3 linked regions of the Homo sapiens genome follow. The protein of the gene in region 3 binds, or shares a complex with, the protein of the main gene of each other region. Each region holds a gene or a part of one and is shown on either strand. Other genes may lie near its edges.

Evidence for each region. Proteins that work in one complex are often made in the same cells at the same time.
Region 1: MORF4L1 (region 3) and MBTD1 share a complex: the UniProt entries of both Homo sapiens proteins name them as parts of the nuA4 histone acetyltransferase complex.
Region 2: MORF4L1 (region 3) and ING3 share a complex: the UniProt entries of both Homo sapiens proteins name them as parts of the nuA4 histone acetyltransferase complex.

The regions. Positions count from the first base shown.
Region 1 is NC_000017.11:51,187,032-51,194,058, forward strand, and holds part of MBTD1 (MBT domain-containing protein 1), read right to left. Parts: intron 6,480-7,027; coding exon 6,397-6,479; intron 5,986-6,396; coding exon 5,751-5,985; intron 5,250-5,750; coding exon 5,172-5,249; intron 1-5,171. UniProt on the Homo sapiens protein: Chromatin reader component of the NuA4 histone acetyltransferase complex, a multiprotein complex involved in transcriptional activation of select genes principally by acetylation of nucleosomal histones H4 and H2A.
Region 2 is NC_000007.14:120,967,768-120,974,794, reverse strand, and holds part of ING3 (inhibitor of growth protein 3), read right to left. Parts: intron 6,862-7,027; coding exon 6,704-6,861; intron 5,785-6,703; coding exon 5,591-5,784; intron 4,108-5,590; coding exon 3,915-4,107; intron 3,595-3,914; exon of another isoform or gene 3,450-3,594; intron 1,591-3,449; coding exon 1,552-1,590; intron 68-1,551; coding exon 1-67. UniProt on the Homo sapiens protein: Component of the NuA4 histone acetyltransferase (HAT) complex which is involved in transcriptional activation of select genes principally by acetylation of nucleosomal histones H4 and H2A.
Region 3 is NC_000015.10:78,882,867-78,889,893, reverse strand, and holds part of MORF4L1 (mortality factor 4-like protein 1), read right to left. Parts: intron 4,928-7,027; coding exon of another isoform or gene 4,811-4,927; intron 3,754-4,810; coding exon 3,667-3,753; intron 2,626-3,666; coding exon 2,545-2,625; intron 1-2,544. UniProt on the Homo sapiens protein: Component of the NuA4 histone acetyltransferase (HAT) complex which is involved in transcriptional activation of select genes principally by acetylation of nucleosomal histones H4 and H2A.

The DNA.
Region 1 (7,027 bases), on a different chromosome or scaffold from region 3:
TTCACTCTTTTAGAAAACACAATTCTTATTCTAAAATGTACTTCCAAATTCAAAGCTTATTGCCTGTAAATTCTTAAGCAATCTGATTTATTCTGAAACAAATTTATCAGGCTGGGCATGGTGGCTTATGCCTGTAATCCCAGCACCTTGGGATGCCAAGGCAGAAGAATGAGGATGGCTTCAGGCCAGGAGTTTCAGACCAGCCTGGGCAACACAGTGAGACCCATCTCTACAAAAAATAAAAAAAAATTGCTGGGCAATGCTGGAGTCTGATGTGGGAGATTTGCTTGAGCCCAAGGGTTCAAGGCTGCAGTGAGCTATGATTGCACCACAGTGCTCCAGGCTGGGCAATAAAGTGAGACCTTGTCTCAAAAAAAAAAAAAAAAAAGTATCACCCTTCAGCTATAGTTTTCTATACAAATATAAGCCTTCCAAGACATGTACAATGCTTTTGCCAACCAAAAAAAATACTCTGAACTCTGCAAATATTGAAGAACCAGGCATAGTGCATTAATCATATTGAAAGCTGAAGGATCAGCAGGGTACAGTGGCTCACACCTATGATCCCAGCACTTTGGGAGGCCGAGGCAGGTGGATCACTTGAGGTCAGGAGTTCAAGACCAGCCTGGCCAACATAGTGAAACCCCGTCTCTACTAAAAATACAAAAATTAGCCGTAAGTAGTGGTGCACACCTGTAATCCCACTACTTGGGAGGCTGAAGCAGGAGAATCGCTTGAATCCGGGAGGCAGAGGTTGTGGCGAGCCGACAGTGCACCACTGCACTCCAGCCTGGGAGACAGAGCAAGACTCTGTCTCAAAAAGAAAGAAAGAAAGAAAAAAAAAAAAAAAGCAAAGGGATCTTTATCTTTGTGACTGAGTTATGTCTGTTTTCTTCCAGATGACAGAATAAACCGAGTAAGAGCAATAAAAAATTATGCTTCACAAAATCAAAACTAAAAGGTAAATGTAAGCCACACAGTATTCCTATGTAAAATGATGTGGGATTTAAGCTGTTATTGAGTAGATTCAACTCTCAAGAGCCAAACCAAAATCACATGCAGCAACAACTTAAGACTTTTTCCTAATATACCACATACTCACAGATAAAAACGCAAGGAGCAATGTCCACTCTTACTACTTACAGTAGTCCCTGAAAATGGTGAGATTTAAAGCAGAAATCAGTACTGCTTTTCCTGCTCTAGAATTACATCTTAAGGAAAAGAGGCTTTTGAGACTAGAGAGTGTCTATGATCCTTCTGGCAGAACCTTATACTTATTCTCAAAAGTGTCAGTAATTATCCCTCCTTCGTGGCATGAACACAACTTACTACAAAGCAAGCTAGACCAATGAAGCTCATCAGCTGTTTCTGTACAATAAGCACTGCCAAAGAATATACCACTAACAGATGATCTTAAGTTCAAAAAGACCAACGAGCTGTAAGATGAAGCAACAGAGCCAGAATATGATAACCTACCAAGGCAAACGTAAAAACAAAAGGTTTTATAGCCCATCTGGTATTTATATCAGTCTGCCTGCAATGGATGACAGGTTTCTAAACCCCAAATACTTATTTGTGTAACTAAAGCTTAGTGAGAAAACTTTCTAACAAACTGCTGAGTAATAGAAAAAAATAAGAGGCGGCGGCACCATTAGAGTGAAAACTGCTGCTTCTTAATACGGCACTATACTTCCTTATCCTCAATTCCAACATTCAAATAGGTTTTTTTTTTTTTTTTTTTTTTTGAGAGGGAGTTTTGCTCTTGTTGCCCAGGCTGGAGTGCAATGGCGCGATCTCGGCTCACTGCAACCTCCGCCTCCCAGGTTCAAGCGATTCTCCTGCCTCAGCCTCCCGAGTGCTGGGATTACAGGCATGCGCCACCACGCCTGGCTAATTTTGCATTTTTAGTAGAGACGGGGTTTCTCCATGTTGGTCAGGCTGGTCTCGAACTCCTGACCTCAGGTGATCCGCCTGCCTCGGCCTCCCAAAGTGCTGGGATTATAGGCGTGAGCCACCGTGCCTGGCCTCAGGAAGTTTTTTTAAAAAGAACTTTGGCAACAAAGCCGTACCTCACTTGGTGACACTACTTATAATTTTTATTTGGGCCATTTAATGTAAATATTTATATATATATTTGCTTTAAAAATGTTTCAGAGTCTGGAGTGTTACATAATGTATGTTACACAGACTATATTTCTCTTCTAAAATCCAAAAAATTCTGAATTCCAATGCACATCTGGTCCCAAGGGCATCTAATGAGGTACTGTGGGTCCATAGTTCTTTTCTTTTCTATGTCCAAAGGACAATTTAAAGGTAGTAGAGATGATGTCATACTATTAGGAAATAGTGAAACATTATAGTTAAGGAATATGTTGCATATAGACCAAAATTCATTTTTTCAGTGAATCCAGAACTCTAGTAATGGTAAATATCACTAAAAACTGGGGTGCTAATATTTCTTCATTAATTACATATTTCTTTCCATGTTCCCAGCCCATTAATTCAAAACAGTTTTAACTCCACAAATCAGAAACAAATCCTACAAGAGTCACGCTGAGGGAGGCAAATGAATTGTCTACATAAAACTCACAGATAAGTTCTAAAAAGCAATGTCATATAGCCACTGAGTAATAAAAACCATTTTTAATTTGACATCTTGGAAAGAAAATTCTGAAATTCCAAAGTCTTATCCAACAGAAAGTGAAAGCAGACTTGTTATTTACTTCACAGAAAGCTTAGTGATCATATCTGCTATTGTCAGTCCACTGACATAAATGAAGTTCCCATGTGAATTCTTGCTACTCATTTAGATACATGAGAACTCCCTTTCATCAGGCTGGTTTGGCAATGCTCCCTAAAGTTCTTTTAGGTGAGTATCAGACCTGGCAAGCAGCTGGTGGGCAAAATAATTCTGGGCCTGTGGGAGGCTTGTGCCTATAAACGAGAGGTCAAGAGACAGGCCTGTAGGTTGCTACTTGTGTGTGGCTGACATGGGTTTTGTGCTGGGAGAAAACTTATTTTTCAAAGTACTACTATAGTGGACAGTAGAAATTTTTAAGTTTCCCACTTAACAAGCAAACATCAGAAAGGTTAGAACAGAGTATATTCGATTCTTCTTGCCACTTCAGTCTCTAGGTTGTTAATGAGGCAAATCAGCACGTACCTGAGCATATTTGGCAAGTCAGCTGGAAAAATCTGTTTCAGTTTTAATCCTCAAGTATACTTTTACATTTTTTAAATAGCTTGCTTTTTTCTTCCTTTTTTTGTTTTTAGAGATGGGGTCTTGCCATGTTACCCAGGCTGGTCTAAAGCCATCCGCCTTGGCCTCCCAAAGTTGCTGGGATTAATTACAGGCATGAGCCACCGCGTCCAGTCCAATTTAAAAAATATCTTTAAATAAAAATTGGCCAGACTCAGAGGATCACACCTGTAATCCCAGCACTTTGGGAGACCAAGGCAGGCAGATGGATCGCTTGAGCCCAGGAGTTTGAGACCAGCCTGGGTAATATGGTGAGACACCATTTCTATAAAAATATAAAAACGAGTTGGGCATGGTGGTATACTCCTGTAGTCCCAGCTACTCCAGGGGCTGAGGTGGGAGAATTGCTTGTACCCGAGAAGTCGAGGCTGCAGTGAGCCAAGATCATACCACTGCATTCCAGTCTGGGCGACAGACTGAGACTCTGTCTCAAAAAAAAAAAAAAAAAAAAAAAAAAAAAATATATATATATATATATATAACCTTATCTAAGAATGAAATGAAATATGGCCATGTGTGGTGGCTCATGCCTGTAATCCCAGCACTTTGGGAGGCTGAGGTGGGCAGAGTGCTTGAGCCCAAAAGTTTGAGACCAGCCTGGGCAACGTGGCAAGACTCTGTCTCTACAAAAAAATACAAAACTTAGCTGGGTGTGTGGCAACACATGCCTGTGGTCCAAGCTACTCAGGAGGCTGGGGTGGGAGGACTGCTTGAGCCAGGGAAGGTTAAGGCTGTAGTGAGCGGAGATTGTGCCACTGCACTCCATTCCAGCCTGAGCAACAAAGTAAGGCCTTGTCTCAAAAAAGAATGAAACATTCTATGACAAGTTTTATGAAGAGAGAAAGCTATGGCTTTCTATGGTGGGGAAATAAGATAAAAAAAATCAAACATAGTTATCAATATATTTTATATTACTTTGGCTTATGCCAACAATTCACTGTAAGGTAAAATATAGTATAGAAAGAATTTCTTTTTTTTTTTTTTTTTCGAGATGGAGTTTTGCTCTTGTTGCCCAGGCTAGAGTGCAATGGCACGATCTCGGCTCACCTCAACCTCCGCCTCCTGGGTTCAAGCAATTCTCCTGCCTCAGCCTCCCAAGTAGCTGGGATTACAGGCGTGCACCACCACACCCGGCTAATTTTTTAGTATAGAAAGCATTTCTAGAAAAATTTGGTAAAGCTTGTTTGCCATCAACTTGGATTTCTTACCAGTATCACTCTAGAAAGTTTTGCTTTCTAGGAAAAATGGGTTTATTAGGCTTCACATCTACTGTAAGCATCAAGCATCTGCTAATTTTTTTTTTTTTTTTTGAGACAGAGTCTTGCTGTGTTGCCCAGCTGGAATGTAGTGGCGTGATCTTGGCTCACTGCAACCTCTGCCTCCTGGGTTCAAGTGATTCTCTTGCCTCAGCCTCCTGAGTAGCTGGGACTTCAGGCGTGTGCCACCACGCCCGGCAGATTTTTTGTATTTTTGGTGGAGACAGGGTTTCACCGTGTTAGCCAGGATGGTCTCGATCTCCTGACCTTGTGATCTGCCAGCCTCGGCCTCCTAAAGTGCTGGGATTACAGGCGTGAGCCACTGCACCTGGCTGCTAATTTTTCTTTTTAAATAAAGTTTTTAAAAAGGATTAACTTTCAGTAGGTTTTACATATTATTTCAAGAATCATTCACAGACTCTATTCTTTACCACGTATACTTTAAATACTGTGGTAATAATTTCTCCTGTTAGTAAAATATCAGTGTTTCTCATTATTGCAAGGGTTTGCCTTTTATGGCATACTGCACCTTTAAGCATAATACATAATGCACAATCATCAGTTCTCACAAGATATATCATTTTCTGTCCAAGAATACTGTGACTCCAATTAGTTAACAATTAGAAAATGTATGTGAACACCACGTGGTGACCCACTTTTCTTATGTCCTTTGTATTGCTGGGACTTAGCCTTTTTCTTCTGTTTTGATGAAGCTGATTGGTTTTCTCTTGATGCTGAAAAATAAAAAGGGAAAATTGGTACTAGATAATTGTTTACAATTTAGACGATACAGTTGTCTAGATACAACTTATATGAACTATCTTTACCAAGACCATTATACTTAAGTACATGATGCTCTGAAAATAAGGGTACTTGTTCCTACAAAACCATAGCCTCAACATGAGACATTTTCCACTATTTACTCAAAAGCATTTATTACCTACCAATAAACTTTTAGTATGTAATTTTTAACTCACTAAAATAGTAAGTCTAGTTTAATTTGGTGACTGTTGTGTTTCTATAGTCATTATGTAATTGACTATTGGATTCACATTGCCATGGGACACATGGTCTGATTCTGTGATATTGTTGTTGAGTCTTAATGTCTTACCTGGCAACCAATCAGACATAGGTATATTCTTGTCCTGTGAGCTCATAAGATGACTTATGTGAGATAGTCCTCTGGAGAATTGCTGATTTTTACAAAAGGACACCTTTTCTGTATACCAACTTACACTGTGATGCTGGAGGCTGTAGTTGATATCCAGTTAACTGACACCACCCTACAGGATAGAGGTCAGGTGACTCACAGTCTACCCACTGATCATACTCTTCTTCCCATCCATCAAAATGTATCCTCAAGAGACGATGAATAATTCGAGTTACTGTGGCTACACATATTAAACGTGGCTCCATGAGATCTACTGCTTCTAATTTCATTCCTACACGAAATCCGTGATTTGGAACATCCTGACACAGAGAAGAAAACATTAATATTGGTATGAAGAAGAAAGAATGCACAACCCTACTATCACTAAGAAAGCAAAAAACAGAAGCGACTAGCTAAATAACATAATTATAAACCATAAATTCCAAATAATTCTTTAACTATTTAAACATAGTACGAAGGTGAAGTATTTAAAAACTAGTTAGGAAAAATCTTCATTTCTATTTCCTTCAGATTAAAAACGAAACATAGTTTGGAAACAAGTTTTGATTCCTAGGTAAAGAAAATATTTATATTGTTTCATTGCTATATTTGTTTATATTATATCTCCACTAAGAAATTCTAATACAAGGCAAAGACATTTTTATGAACATAAATTGTATTTGTGGGGCATTAATAAGTCCTCACATAATTATGCTGCCATTTAAATTTACCTTATTAAATAGTTTTACTGGTGCTGCAATGGAGCCAGTTTCCCTGAGGTAGTCAAACCATTTAAAAGGAAGTTTTGTGTAACCTAAAAAACACAACTGGTTTAACTAGCAGTTCATTTAAAATTAGCATAATATTAAAATGCAGACAAAAAGTAACAGTACAAAAAATCTTAAGAGCATAGGTTATATGATCAACTTTATTTTTTTTGAGACAGGGTCTTGCTCTGTCGCCCAGGCTGGAGTGCAGTAGTGCCCTCAAAGGCTTACTGCAGCCTCAACCTCCAGGGCTCAAGTGATCCTCCTGCCTTAGCCTCTCTAGTAGCTGGGACTACAGGCACATGCCACTGTGACAGGCTAATTTTTTGTTGTTTTTAGTAGAGACAGGGTCTCCCTATGTTGCCCGGGTTGTTCTCAAACTCCTGGTCTCAAGCAATCCTCCTACCTGAGTCTCCCAAAGTGCTGGGATTATTGGCGTGAGCCACTGCACCTGGCCTATATGATTTATACTGCTGAGTGCAATAATTCCTCCATGTTACACAGATTTCCCTCCCCTCTCTAGAAACACTGGTGTGCCTACTTAGTCTAACGCAAAAGTGGCTCTCTTTTTCTGTTTACTACAATGGTACATTTT
Region 2 (7,027 bases), on a different chromosome or scaffold from region 3:
AGTACCATTTGCCTTTTGGTGCCTCTGTCAATCCAACGCAGCCATAATGGAACCATTCTATAGGGCACTAGAAAGCAAAATTGCAAAAAACAAGTTTTCAGTACTTCTGAAGACAAGAGAGTATATTAAAATATGCTCAGGAGACTGAATAATCCATTTAATTTAACAATAATTAGATGTGTGACATCAGAATTTTTAGATCTAGATTATTTAGACATCATTTAGACTAAATGATAAGCTTCAGGAATGAGGAAATGAAGGCACAGAAAAATTATGCATCTTCAAGAATCCTGAGGTCCATGTAATCTAGTCCCCTCATCCTAATGAATGAAAATTCACTAGTTTTCAGCTTTCAAGGGCAAAAAGAAGTGGGATGAATCTTCTATGTAGAAGGTAAATATAACTTAAGATTTTATTTAATAGTCAGCCTTATTTGCTGTCTCATAAAGTAGAATAAGCTGATTGTAATTAAAGACATTAATTTATGTCTTATGCCCTGCATTTCCTACGTGGGTGTTTCTATTCCTTGAAATGTAGAGAAAAATTATTCCTCTTTGAAACATATTAAGCAGAAAACTCTTTCATGAAAGTCTTAGCACTCAGAAGAGCACAACTGGGAATAAGAAGAATCAGAGAAGCATGATGCTGGTACTCATAGAAATCTCATTCATCATTTTCACTAACTGCCCCAGAAGAGTTTACAGTGATGTTCTTGAAATGGTTGGGCAATATTGTTTTTGCAACAACCACAAACAGCCTACAAGGGATTCTAGACAGGGAAACAGAAGGAGGCTCTGTCCCAATCTACGTGAGCATGTTGCTGTAACCCTATCAGGTCTAGGAAAAGTACACATTTTAATGCACCTAGCCAGCTCCCTCAATCTTCAGATTGTTTTACAAATTTAAAACTCTTGTTAATCTTAGGATCCTGTCACTACTAAATAAGGAGGGAGTCAAAATTACTAGACAACAATATTCTCAGTATTGAATAAAAAACGTATCTCTAACTAAAATTAAGTCTCCTAAAAACCAAGAATTCCTTCCTTTCAAATTTCCTTTACTTTTTAGATCAGGGGTGGCTCTTATCAGCTGACACCTGCAGAGTACAGGAAAAAATATTATACTCATGAGAGGAAGATAATCTCACATTAGATCCTCAATTATCCCACCCTTCACTTTAGCACGGTGCAGCCTGAAAGAATGAATTGTTTTAAAATTCCATTTCTTCAATGTGATAAATGAACTGGATTCTAGTAAACACAGTATTTTTTAGTAAAGGGAAAGGAGGGTATTTATAATTTTCATACAACATAACACTTCTGAGACAATCTGCACATAAAACCATAAAATTAGCTTTAAAAATTAAAATAGGGAACACATTAAGGGACACTACCCTATTTTGAAGAGGAATATTCTAGCATTAGCATAATATAACTAATATACCTGCAAACCTGTTTTCTTAGACCAAACCATACAGCAAATAAGACAAATATTCAAGTAATAACAACCTGTGATTTTTTTCATTCCTAAATAGAAAAATGTAATACTTACATCTTGGTTATCACATCCCACCATCTCACCATAAGATACCTAGTTAAAAAAAATTAAATGTCTTTATTATGACTATGTAACAAACACCTAGATACCAATTAACTGTTTATGTATGATACTGCTGGAAAATAAAGGGAAATACACTGAATATACAATTACATTGAGAATCAAGGTATAATAATTTTTTCCTGAAATACTCTTTTGGGCAGGGTGGGGCAAGGGTGGGAAGAAATGCACAGGAATTATCTGCCCTTCAGAAGTCTGGAAGAACTTGACATATAAATCACCCGGATGAAGGAGTCATCTTTCTGGGTAGTTCTTATTGTAAAAATTTTAAGTTCCTTTCTTGATTATTTACTTACTGAAAGTTTTTACTTCTTGGGTCACATTAGGTCATTTATATTTTTGCAATTAATAGTCTCCTTCCTTGAAACTTCTAAACTTATCTATTTTATGTCCTTTCTCATTTTTCTTTTGCTCTTCATCACCAGCACTTTAGGGCATAACTTGCTAATTCTTGAGTTCACTGAAGTTCTCAGTGGATTGAATAATTTTTCAGACAGGATTAACTAGATGGCATATCTTCTGATTCTCTGCATGAGTGAAAATATATTTACATGGTCCTATGCAGAGAAATAACTTCTCTGAATATCAAGTTTTTGGGGGCTCTTAATTTTTCCCTGAAAGCTCTACAGACATATTCCATCACCTTCTAGTTTTTTAGTGTTACAGAGGAAAACTCTAGGTTCAGTCTGATTTTGTTCTTTTGCAAGTAATCTACTTTTGTTGTCAGGATACAGGATATGCTTTTCTATCATTTGTACTGAAAAATGTTTATCGGGTGATAGTGGAACAGCTAACAAATTGTTAAAATTTTTAAAAATCAGACTGGCAACTCATACTGTTAGACACAATAATCTGCTGATAGACTAAGTCTTAAATGTGAAGAAACTGAAGCATGCAAAGAACTAGACAAAACCATATAAAAACTAGGAGAAAATATTATACAAGACAATTTTTTGTAGAAAGAAGAGCCAAAGAGAAAGCCCTTCTAAGTATATAATCCATGGCTTGCTTCATAAAAAAAAATTAACAGTCATAACTACATAAAATTAAAATTTTAGAATTATTTTTAAAAAACTAAATCAAGCAAATATTTAGAGTACATAACAAAAACAATAGAAAAATCAGCCGACACCATTAGGAGTCGATTCATAATGTAAAAAACAAAAATGGTCAAAAAATGTCCAACTTCAATAATACTAGTGTATTTAAAACAATCATAATATAAAACTACCAAATTGGTACTTAGTTTTTAAAAGAAAATAATATCCAGTGTTGGACAGGGTTTAGTAAACCGGTATGTTTATTAATTTTTGGTAATAAATTTCTAGAAAATATATTTTGGTGTCTGTCAAATATTTACAGCCTAATTTTATTTCTAAAAGATTATCCAAGAAATTAGATGTATAAAATGGATTACATTTAAAAAATGCCTATCGTAATATTATCCCTAATTTCAAACAAATTAAAACCACTAATATAATCTATAGCTAGGTATTGGTTAAGAAAACTACACTGGATGGCATAAGAGATAACTATGTGAAAATTAAAAATATGATCTTAAAGAAAAATCATGTTCGGTATACCTGATTTAGAGAAAAAAGCCAGTAACAAGAAAGTATACACTGTGGTTCCTACTGACAAACTTATACACACATGCATGTGCAAATCTGCATAGACACGTGTTATGAAATGCAAGCTTATGTCTCAAAATCATATGTTGAAGCCCTAACCCCCAACGTGACTATAATTGGAAACAGGGCCTGTGAGGAGGTGGTAAAGGTTAAATGAGGTCATAGAGTGGGGTCCTACTCTGACAAGGCTGGTGCCCTTATAAGAAAAGACACCAGAGCACACTCTTTCTCCCTCTATCATGTGAGGACCCGGTGAGAAGGCAGCAGTCTCCATCTAGGAAGGGAGCCCTCCTCCAGAACTGAGTCAGTGGACACCTTGATCTTGGACTTCCCAGCCTTCATACCTGTGAGAAAATTATTTTCTGTTGTTTAAGCTACCCAGTCTGTTGTATTTTATTAAGGCAGCCAATGTGCACATGAGGTATATGGTAGTGGTATACCAAAAATGTTTAGTTACAGGTTGTATCTGAGGGCTAGGATTATGGGTAACATTTTTCTTTATACTCAGTATTTACAGCAAATGTCACTTTTGTAAGAAGGGGGAGAAAAGTATACAAATAAAGCAAAGGTATTTTAAGTGAGTTTAAAAAAGTGCTTAAAAATGAAATAGTTCTCTTCCTTCTAGTTTATTCAGATTATACTTTTATAGATATAACAGACTTTTACCTGATTACAAATGCAGTATCGAGGTTCATTTGGGTCGTAAGTCCAATCAACCTGACTATTTGAATCAGATTCTGGCACTACAGTTGTTTGTTGAGAGATTTCTTGTACAACAGTTGATGATGAAGAACACGATGATAAGGAAGAAGAGGAGGAGGAAGATGATGACTGCTGGCTTGAAGACTTGTTGTTGTTTCTGAAAAAAATAGTATAAGTTTTATTTGCTCACCATCCAGAAGTTAACTGAGAATAACTCCTAAATAAATAGTATAAAATGAAATGACATCAAATGTATAAATTAAAGTGTAAGCTAAAGTAATCCGGATTTACCAATGACTTAAATTGTAGGTAGTACTTTGAAGAATTAACATAAGTTCTGGCTACTTTACAGACATTATTTGTATTTTTTTTTTTTTTTTGAGATGGAGTCTCGCTCTGTTGCCCAGACTGGAGTGCAGTGGCGCGATCTCTGCACACCGCAAGCTCCACCTCCCAGGTTCACGCCATTCTCCTGCCTCAGCCTCCCGAGTAGCTGGGACTACAGGCGCCCGCCACCATGCCTGGCTAATTTTTTGTATTTTTAGTAGAGATGGGGTTTCATCGTGTTAGCCAGGATGGTCTCGATCTCCTGACCTCGTGATCTGCCCACCTCGGCCTCCCAAAGTGCTGGGATTATAGGCATGAGCCACCCCGCCCAGCCACTCATTATTCGTATTTTTAAGTAAACTGAATACTCTTCATCAAAACCTAAAGCACACACACACAAAAACATTTGATGAAAGTGGTTATAACCATCAACTGATGTGTGAATACCTACCATGAGTATGGCAGGGAACCAAGACTGTAAAAATTCACAAGTAATTTACTGCTAAGCCCTATGCTATTTAAATTCTAAAAGTATAGAACTTTATCATAAGAAATTACATTAAACTTGTACCATTAAGATGAATTAATTTTTAAGATGTTTGACACTTCTGTTGTGGTTATTTCATATTGATCGTTCTTTAAGGGATTAATTCACAAAAAATATAACATATTTTAAAATACAGAAAATATAACTACTAGGTAACTAATTATTTTGGCCTAGCATTTGAACTTTCATTATGTATAAACACCCAGCATATTCAGTTACCTGGGATAGACAGTGATAAATGCTATTAGGTTTTCATATTTAAAGCTTATACAGTCATCCCAAGTCTCATATACAAAATCTAGGGATATTTTTACACCATCAGTTTTTGGGACCCAAGACTAAGAATGAAGACGCCTTGCTTGCTGTTAATCAAAATGAAAAATCTTGTTTAAAAAAAAAAAATCACCAGGATATAATTTGCATTGCATTAATTTACCTTGAAACACATGGCAAAATAAAGGGTAATAAATGAAAAGCAGTTCCATAAAATGATTTATCTTAATGAATAAAAGAAGATAAAAAGAAGTCATGTATTAACAAACTCAATTTATGACTCTAGAAAAATTAAAAACAACTCTAACACTTTTTAAAGACTTGACACCTTCAAAGTATGGCACTATAAAATGAAAACCGCATGTCTCCCTACCTCTGCAAGGTTAATTTTAATCCGTTATATCCTGCCTTTAACATAGAGAGGCCTGGCTGAAGTGTCAAGTAGACCAAGTGTTCAGTAAAGGTATAGGGCTACTGTAACAATAAAACTTACTTGCTCTTTCGACCACTCCGTGAGTCGGCTGCTGATGAACTGGCATTCTGTGTTAATGTTGTCATAAGTGCCGAAGATGATGAATAGCCAACTGTTTCCCTGGCCATTGAAAATTCTTTTCCCAACTGAAAGTCATTATTCTTAAATGCTTCATAACTGGCTTTTAAACTTGATGTTCTTCGTCCCTCCTTCATCTTAAATAGACATTCATTGATAGCATCAATATATGTAAATATGTAGATTTTCTTTTTCAAGTTTTACAAATTATAGTTTTATTTTGGTTTATCAAATGTTAATTTATATTGTTTAAACTATTATTTTCATCACTGGAATTTAAGCTTTTTTTTTTTTTTTTTTTTGAGGTGGAGTTTCAATCTGTCGCTTGGGCTGGAGTCTAGTGGCACGATTTTGGCTCGCTGCAACCTCCACCTCTCAGGTTCAAGCAATTCTCCTGCCATAGCCTACCGAGTAGCTGGGATTACAGGCACCCACCAGGCACCCAGCTAATTTTTTTGTATTTTTAGTAGAAATGGAGTTTCACCATGTTGACCAGGCTGGTTTTGAACTCCTGACCTCAAGTGATCCACCTGCCTCGGCCTATCAAAGAGCTGGGATTACAGGTGTGAGTCACCATGCCTGGCCTAACCTTTTTCATTTAAAGATTTAAAATAAGATTTTACACAGTTAGAATATAAACTATGGGATGGGCAGCTTCTTAATTTGGAATATAGGCAAACTATACAGAAGTGAACAAACTCAAGATGACCTAAGTCCAAGGCTACAGGGGAAGCCTTGGAACTGGCAGAAAGAACGAAGAACTATGCTAGCATGTGCTGTGGACTGCAGTCAAGAACATGGGCAACATGAGCAGTTATTGTGAGAAGGGTCTGCATGTAATCCGCATGATAAACCTATTTTTTAGTTTTCATTATCAATCAGGCAATTCCTATGTATTATTTCATTAAATAAAATATCACATATCGTGAAATCATGACTTAAAAATGAAAATATACAACGTTAGAAAACTATTTGTTCACATCCCGTTATTTCTATTAGGTTTCCAATGATTCCGACAAAATGTAACATTTTGTCTCTAAACCCTTTACTTTTTACCTGAGCTGTAGCCTGAACTGCTTGAGCAGCTGCCATGGTAATTGCCCCTGCACCAGTTCCTGAAGATAACGAGCCAATGTTATAGGATCCCAGAGGTTGGGAGGAATTCACATTGTAGGCATTGTTAGAAGAGGCTGTGGAATTATTATTTCGACAACCTGTGTAGATGTAAAAAAGAAATAAAAATGGTTGCAGAGAACATAATGTTAGTGAGTCTAAATTACATTATTTCCCAGCACAGACATATAATCATTAAAATTTTTAATGTCACTTGTACATTAAGTCAACTGAATAATGTATTTGGTTTTCCTTTTTCTTCTTTCT
Region 3 (7,027 bases):
ATAGAGCCCATGATTATGGATTACTTTCGATGGAAAGATACTATAACACCTGGATTTTTTACTTTTCTGTAGCTTTAAATAATACTTATAAATGTTATTAATTAAATATATTCATTTAATTTAGGTCTTAAGGTTTGACAATTCAAATTAACTTATGTTTGGATATAAACACAAAAATCTGTGTATAGGTTTTCTCTTGTCTGTTAGTTTTGTAAAAATCTGTTGGACTGTATTTCTCGGTCAAAGTCAACCATGAACTTTACTTGCACGTGTCAATATGTGGAGACCAAGAGAAACCAATAGTCTTCACACTCAATCCTTTACCCACTCACCTCTGTAATATAAAACTAAAATACTGACAGGTGATCTCAACTCTAAAGTAAAAGATCTATAAAATATAGATGAGTTCAGCATCCCAAAGCCAAAATGCTCCAAAAATCCCAATTTTCTGAGCCAACATGACATTCAAAGGAAATGCTCATTGAAGCATTTTGGATTTGGGATGTTCAACAGGTAAGTATAACGCAAACATTTCAAAATCCAAAAAAAGTCTGGAATCTGAAACGCTTCTGGTCCGAAACACTTCAGATAAGGGATATTCAACCCATACACTTCAATAAGTCCTAGTAGTAAGAGCTTGACATTCATGCTTCAAACGTCTAGACTGAGGATCCTTCAAAAGACTCAGAAGCCAGTTTGAAGAGGCTTCTACTGTTCAAGAATGGGAAATTTAAATTTTAAAGCTTTACTTCATATATTTACTCAGCCATTATTTTTGTAGTGGAGACTGCACAATGCTGTATTCAAATGCAAATAACTTATGGGCATACTACCACTTAAGATTTCTATATAATAACTTAGCACAGTGATAAAGAATTAGTTATGAACTATTACTTTTGATAAAAATCTTTTCTATATAGAGAAAATTACTGCCTTTTAAGACATAATTACTATTAAATCCTAATGAAATACTACACTACAGTTTTCCAAAGAACCAGATCATGAAAACATGTTACCACTTATTAAAACTATGAACAATCCTCAAATAGTAACACACTTAATCCTTGCCAATTATCTTCTCACCAAAAAGAGTTTAAAAAAAAATAAAAAGCTTCAAACATCTCCAAATGCATTAAATACTAAATACCTTCATTAGTAACACCTTACTTTTTTTAAGAGGCTGGAGCGCAGTGGTGCAATCACAGATCACTGCAGCCTAGAACTCCTGGCCTCAAGCAATCCCTCCCACCTCAGCCTCCCAAAGCACTGGGTGTAACACCTTACTTTTAAGTAGAAAAATCAGATCAGTAATTCTGGTAGGAAATAAAATGACCTCTTAATAAAAGTTATAATTTTTGTTTTTATTATTACAAATACTTAAGAATACTTATTAAGTTACCACTCTTGTCATCCACTTTCAGGTACATCAACTTTTTTTTTTTTCTTTTTAAAAGACAGGATCTCACTCAGTCGCCAAGACTAAAGTGCAGCCTTGACCTCCTGGGCTCAAGTGACCCTCCCACATCGGCCTCCTGAATAGGTGGGACTACAAGCATGTGCCACCACCCCCGAGCTAATTTTTTTATTTTTCTGTAGAACCAGAGGCTCCCGATGTTGCCCAAGTTGGTCTCAAACTCCTGGGCTCAAACCATTCTCCTGCCTCAGCCTCCCAAACAAAGTAGGGGGATTACAGGTGTGAGCCACCGCACCGTCCTACATAAACTTTAAACATACAAAATGTATGCATGCACATGACTTTCTCACTCTAGGCTTCTTATCAGATGTTCTAAAATCTAGAGTTAACAAGAAGTAATGGTTTTGTGCCAGGAGCAGTGGCTCACGCCTATAATCCCAGCACTCTGGGAGGCCAAGGCAGGTGGATCACCTGAGGTCAGGAGGTCAGCCTGACCAACATGGTGAAACTCCATCTCTACTAAAAATACAAAAATCAGCCAGGCGTGGTGGCACACGCCTGTAATCCCCGCTACTTGGGAGGCTGAGGCAGGAGAATCACTTGAACCCAGGAGGCAGAGGTTGCAGTGAGCACAGATCACACCACTGCACTCCAGCCTGGGCAACAAGAGGGAAACTCTGTCTCAAAAAAAAGCAATGGTTTTCTTAGGGGTGGGGATGAGGAGGGCAGTTATTTGAAACCTTAACTTCTCACATATTCTTACCATGAGTTTCACCAAAGTGGAGGTTAATTCGTATGTATTTTTAGCACTTGCCAGCACTTGCTTTTTAGGTTTGAAAAGGCTTGCCAAAAGTTATCTCAAAACTTATAACCACTAGTACTATCTTTGTAAGAGAAAACATCACACACATATATTTATACACACAAGTTAAAGGGAGGGGGAACCTGCTGAGGAAAATTAAGGAATACGTTATTTTAAACTACTTTAACGACCTGATACCTGAGGAATGGGATTCTTACTGGTTCCAACAATGTTCCAAAGTTTCCACTTCAACACAGTCTAACACACAATGAACATAAAATATTATCTTCACATATAGTATGCAAAATCAAAACAAAGAGCTTCTTACACTTCAACATTTTTCTGTTGCAGACCAGATGTCTTCTTTCCTGGGGCAGCCCCTCTCATCTTCCCCTCTGCATACTGCTCCCTTCAAAAATAATTTCAGTAATGTCAACATAAAATGAGCATTTATGTGAAAAAAAAATTGTCAGCCTGATTCCATTAGGAATTTACATTCAAATTCTGGCAACAAGTTTTTAACAAGTTGGACAGAGATATTTCCACAAAAATCAAACAAAACACTCAAGAAACAGCAAAAGGCTCAATTAAAATCAATGTAATAAAAAGTGACTGTAATAGACTGTTCTCATAGCATTGAAAATTCCATTTGTTTTGGAATTCACTAATCCCAGTGTTTTATTTGTTCCCATTACCATTTTAATTCTTTTTTTTTTTTTTTTTGAGACAGAGTTTCACTGTGCTGCCCAGGCTACACTGCAGTGGCGCGATCTCCGCTCACTGAAAGCTCTGCCTCCCGGGTTCACGCCATTCTCCTGCCTCAGCCTCCGGAGTAGCTGGGACTACAGGCGCCCGCCACCATGCCCGGCTAATTTTTTGAATTTTTAGTAGAGACGGGGTTTCACCGTGTTAGCCAGGATGGTCTTGATCTCCTGACCTCGTGATCCACCCGCCTTGGCCTCCCAAAATGCTGGGATTACAGGCGTGAGCCACTGCGCCCAGCCATCGTTTTAATTTTTTTAAAAATACATTTCAACTTTGAGATTACCCTATAAATCATAGAGTCTTTCAGGGTCCCTTTTCCCGTGCTTTCAGAGATGAAAAGCAGAATAGGAAATGCCTCGTTTGCTTGTTTCCCCACCAAATTTGTCTTCCAGAGCCCCCGAAAATAAAGATTTTTATCAGTGAGTTCATACCTATAGCAATTTCCAACAACATTCTGCTGTTTTCTACCTAGGTCTAAGATAAGCTCAAGTAATGGCAGGTATGCTACTTCCTTTACCTAGATATGGCTTGATCGCTTGAAGTCAAAGCTGTAACACAGCAGCTGAAAGGTACCAGGAATCATTTTATAGGCAGGGCAGCCAACATGATCTCCATTGTTCATTCCATGTCCAGAATTAATCTACAGGCATTTCTCCTTAATATTCAGTTCACAAAACAAACTTACTGATTGGCTTTTTGAAGTTCTCGCTGTTTCTGCAAATTGGTGTCCACGTATTTGAGTACTCTGCTCTCCGGAACCCATTCATCCCAACTGAAAAAGAGGAAAGTTAAAATTTAACTCAAAAATACTCTGTTCTCCAACTAATTTTCTGAGATCAAGAGGCAAGACTGGATTTCTCTTAAGTAATTTGATGAACTGGCACTACAAATATATTCTCAACTAAAATGAAGATCTAATGGAAGTCTGTTCTGTAAAAAGGAAAACTTTTTATTTTCAAAAAGCAGCATTCCAAATCTAAGCTGCCAGAGTCCAAAAGCAGATTATTCAAATCATTTTTAGAAATGGCTTAAGAGTTTGGCACTTAATGTAAGATTCACTAAGTGATTAGTCTTATGTTATCTTAAAGACTTTTATTGTCAAAAATAAAGCACAGGAGTCAAAAACTCAGTTATTTTTAAAAATTAAAACCAGCTGTGTGTAATGACAAAGTTCCATATAGCTTTGTGTTTTCATTTCATTCTCTATGAAATGAGGATAACAACAGTACTTATCTCAAATAACTGTTATGAGAATACATGTAAAACACCTGAGAATCCCTGACACAAAACAACACTAAAGGTATGTCAGAAACATATTAGGAAGTCTACAATACTCAAACACCAACTAGACTAACTTAAGTTTGTAAAGTATTAAAATGATTTGACACCATTCTCCACCTTCATTCAGTCACAAATGAATACACACTAATAACTTTCAAGGCTGATCAGAAAGCTGGCTTTCTAAATATTAGAAGGCAGAACCAACTCTCTCAAAAATGTTAAGACATTCTGGCACTTCAAAGAGCTTGTTCAAAACACAATTTCTGATTATGTGTTTTTTCCCCCAAAATGGCAAACAAAAACAATGTAATTTCTTAGGGAATGCTAACTTTTTTTGAGCAGTAAATCTTTTCTCCTGCTGATGGAGCTCCTTTAGTGACACAATTAGGTGTACTCTCAAGGCACCCAATTACAAAAAAAAATTTAAGACTTTCTTTTGTTTAATGATTTCCCACCTCTGACCTCTTATATAATACAGCCAAGAGGAAAATAATAAAAAGCAATCCTGAACATGATTTCCTAGAGAAAATTTCAAAACATGCATTTACCTAGAGGTCAGGAGGGGGTGGTGTACTGAGGGAGCTCCTTCAGGAACAGGAAAAAGGGCTACAATATCCTCATGTGTCTTCAAAGATTTTTCAGAGCGCCTGGGCCTCACAGCACTTCTGATACAGACAGCATAGTACAAAGTAATCTCAGTGACCAGGTGCAGAATTGAGCCTCAGCTTTATTAAGATTCATTTACAAATGGAGTATTTAAGTGTGTGTCAACAAATTCCAATGAGGTTTGAAAATTTAGAAATCTCCATCATCTATTATGTTTTTGAAAAAAGATTAACTGAAGTTTAAGAGAATTCCAATTTAGGGATTAAGGTTTTGTTGTACGAATTTTAAAAAGTACCCTGCACAAGCCATTTTCAAAATGAGATTATTTTTGAGATATTTGTGTGTGTGTGTGTGTGTGTGTGTGTATTTTTTTTTTTTTTTTTTTTGAGACAGAGTTGCGCTCTCGTTGCCCTGGCTGGAGTGCAATGGCGTGATCTTGGCTCACCACAACCTCTGCCTCCTGGGTTCTAGCGATTCTCCTGCCTCAGCCTCCTGAGTAATTGGGATTACAGGCATGCGCCACCACGCCCAGCTAATTTTGTATTTTTAGTACAGACAGGGTTTCTCCATGTTGGTCAGGCTTGTCTCGAACTCCTAGCCTCAGGTGATCCGCCCACCCTCGGCTTCCCAAAATGCTGGGACTACAGGTGCGCGCCACTACACCCAGCTAATTTTTAGTAGAGACAGAGTTTCACCACCATGGCCAGGCTGGTTTTGAACTCCTGACCTCGTGATCCACCTGCCTAGGCCTCCCAAAGTGCTGGGATTACAGGCATGAGCCATCGCGCCTGGCAAGAATTTCAGCTTTTTGTTTTTTTTTTTGAGATGGAGTCTTGCTCTGTCGCCCAGGCTGGAGTGCAGTGGCACGATCTCGGCTCACTGCAACCTCTGCCTCCCAGGTTCAAGCAGTTCTCCTGCCTCAGCCTACAAACTAGCTGGGATTACAGGCATGAACCACCACACCTGGCTAATTTTTGTATTTTTACTAGAGACGGGATTTCATCATGTTGGCCAGGCTGGTCTAGAACTCCTGACCTTGTGATCTGCCCGCCTCGGCCTCCCAAAGTGCTGGGATTACAGGTGTGAGCCACCGCGCCTGGCCCAGAATTTCATAGTTTTCTAACGGTAATGTGACTAATTCCCAGAGTCACAATGATCCATGGGCAGTACTTACATAGACTAAATACACAACACACTAGGTATCTGAATAACTCCTCCCCCTTTCAAAATGAATTTAAAGGTTTCTTTAAAGACTTTCTAAAGCTAAGATCATTCTTTCAACATTGCATATATTTATCTACATGCCAAGTCAACCAAAGACATTTCTGATATATTAATATTCCTCAATACATCTACAAAGATAGTAACAAATCTCTAATATTTGATGCTATTTTTTCTTAACTTTCCCCAACAGTAATTAATATGTGTCAAATTAGTTGAGAACAAAAAAATCTACACAAACCTATCATTTCTTTGAGTTACTGGACTACAATACACCAAAGAGGAAAATGCCCATTATTTTTCGAAACAATAAAATCTGAAAATACAAGCATTTGGTATTTTCACAACTTGTGACAAGCTACAAATGCCACTTAAAATCCAGTCTTTGCGCTGTACACATCTATGTGTGCAATTTTATACAGGGTTATCTATTATATGTGAAAAAGAACTAAGCACAAAAGCTGTATTCACAGTTACTAAGGTGAAATTCTAAAATAATTTTTTAAGGTTTTTAAAAATATCTTCTTTATTCTATTCCCTTGTCGTAGTTTCCCTTAGTTTTTTATGTGTTCAATCGCTTTTTTTTTTTTTTTCCTGAGTCTCACTCTGTCGCCTAGGCTAGAATACAGTGGTGCAATCTCAGCTCACTGCAACCTTCGCCTCCTGGGTTCAAGCGATTCTCCTGCCTCAGCCTCCCCAGCAGCTGGGACTACAGTCGTGTGCCACCACACCTGGCTAATTTTTTTATTTTTAGTAGAGATGGGGTTTCACCATGTTGGCCAGGCTGGACTTGAACTCCTGACCTCAAATGATCCAACCGTTTTGGCCTCCCAAAGTGTTGAGATTACAGGCATGAGCCACTACACCCAGCCTCAAACACTTTTTTAAAATTTTTATTTGCTTAATTATAAGAGGGGTGTCTACCTATGTTGCCCAGG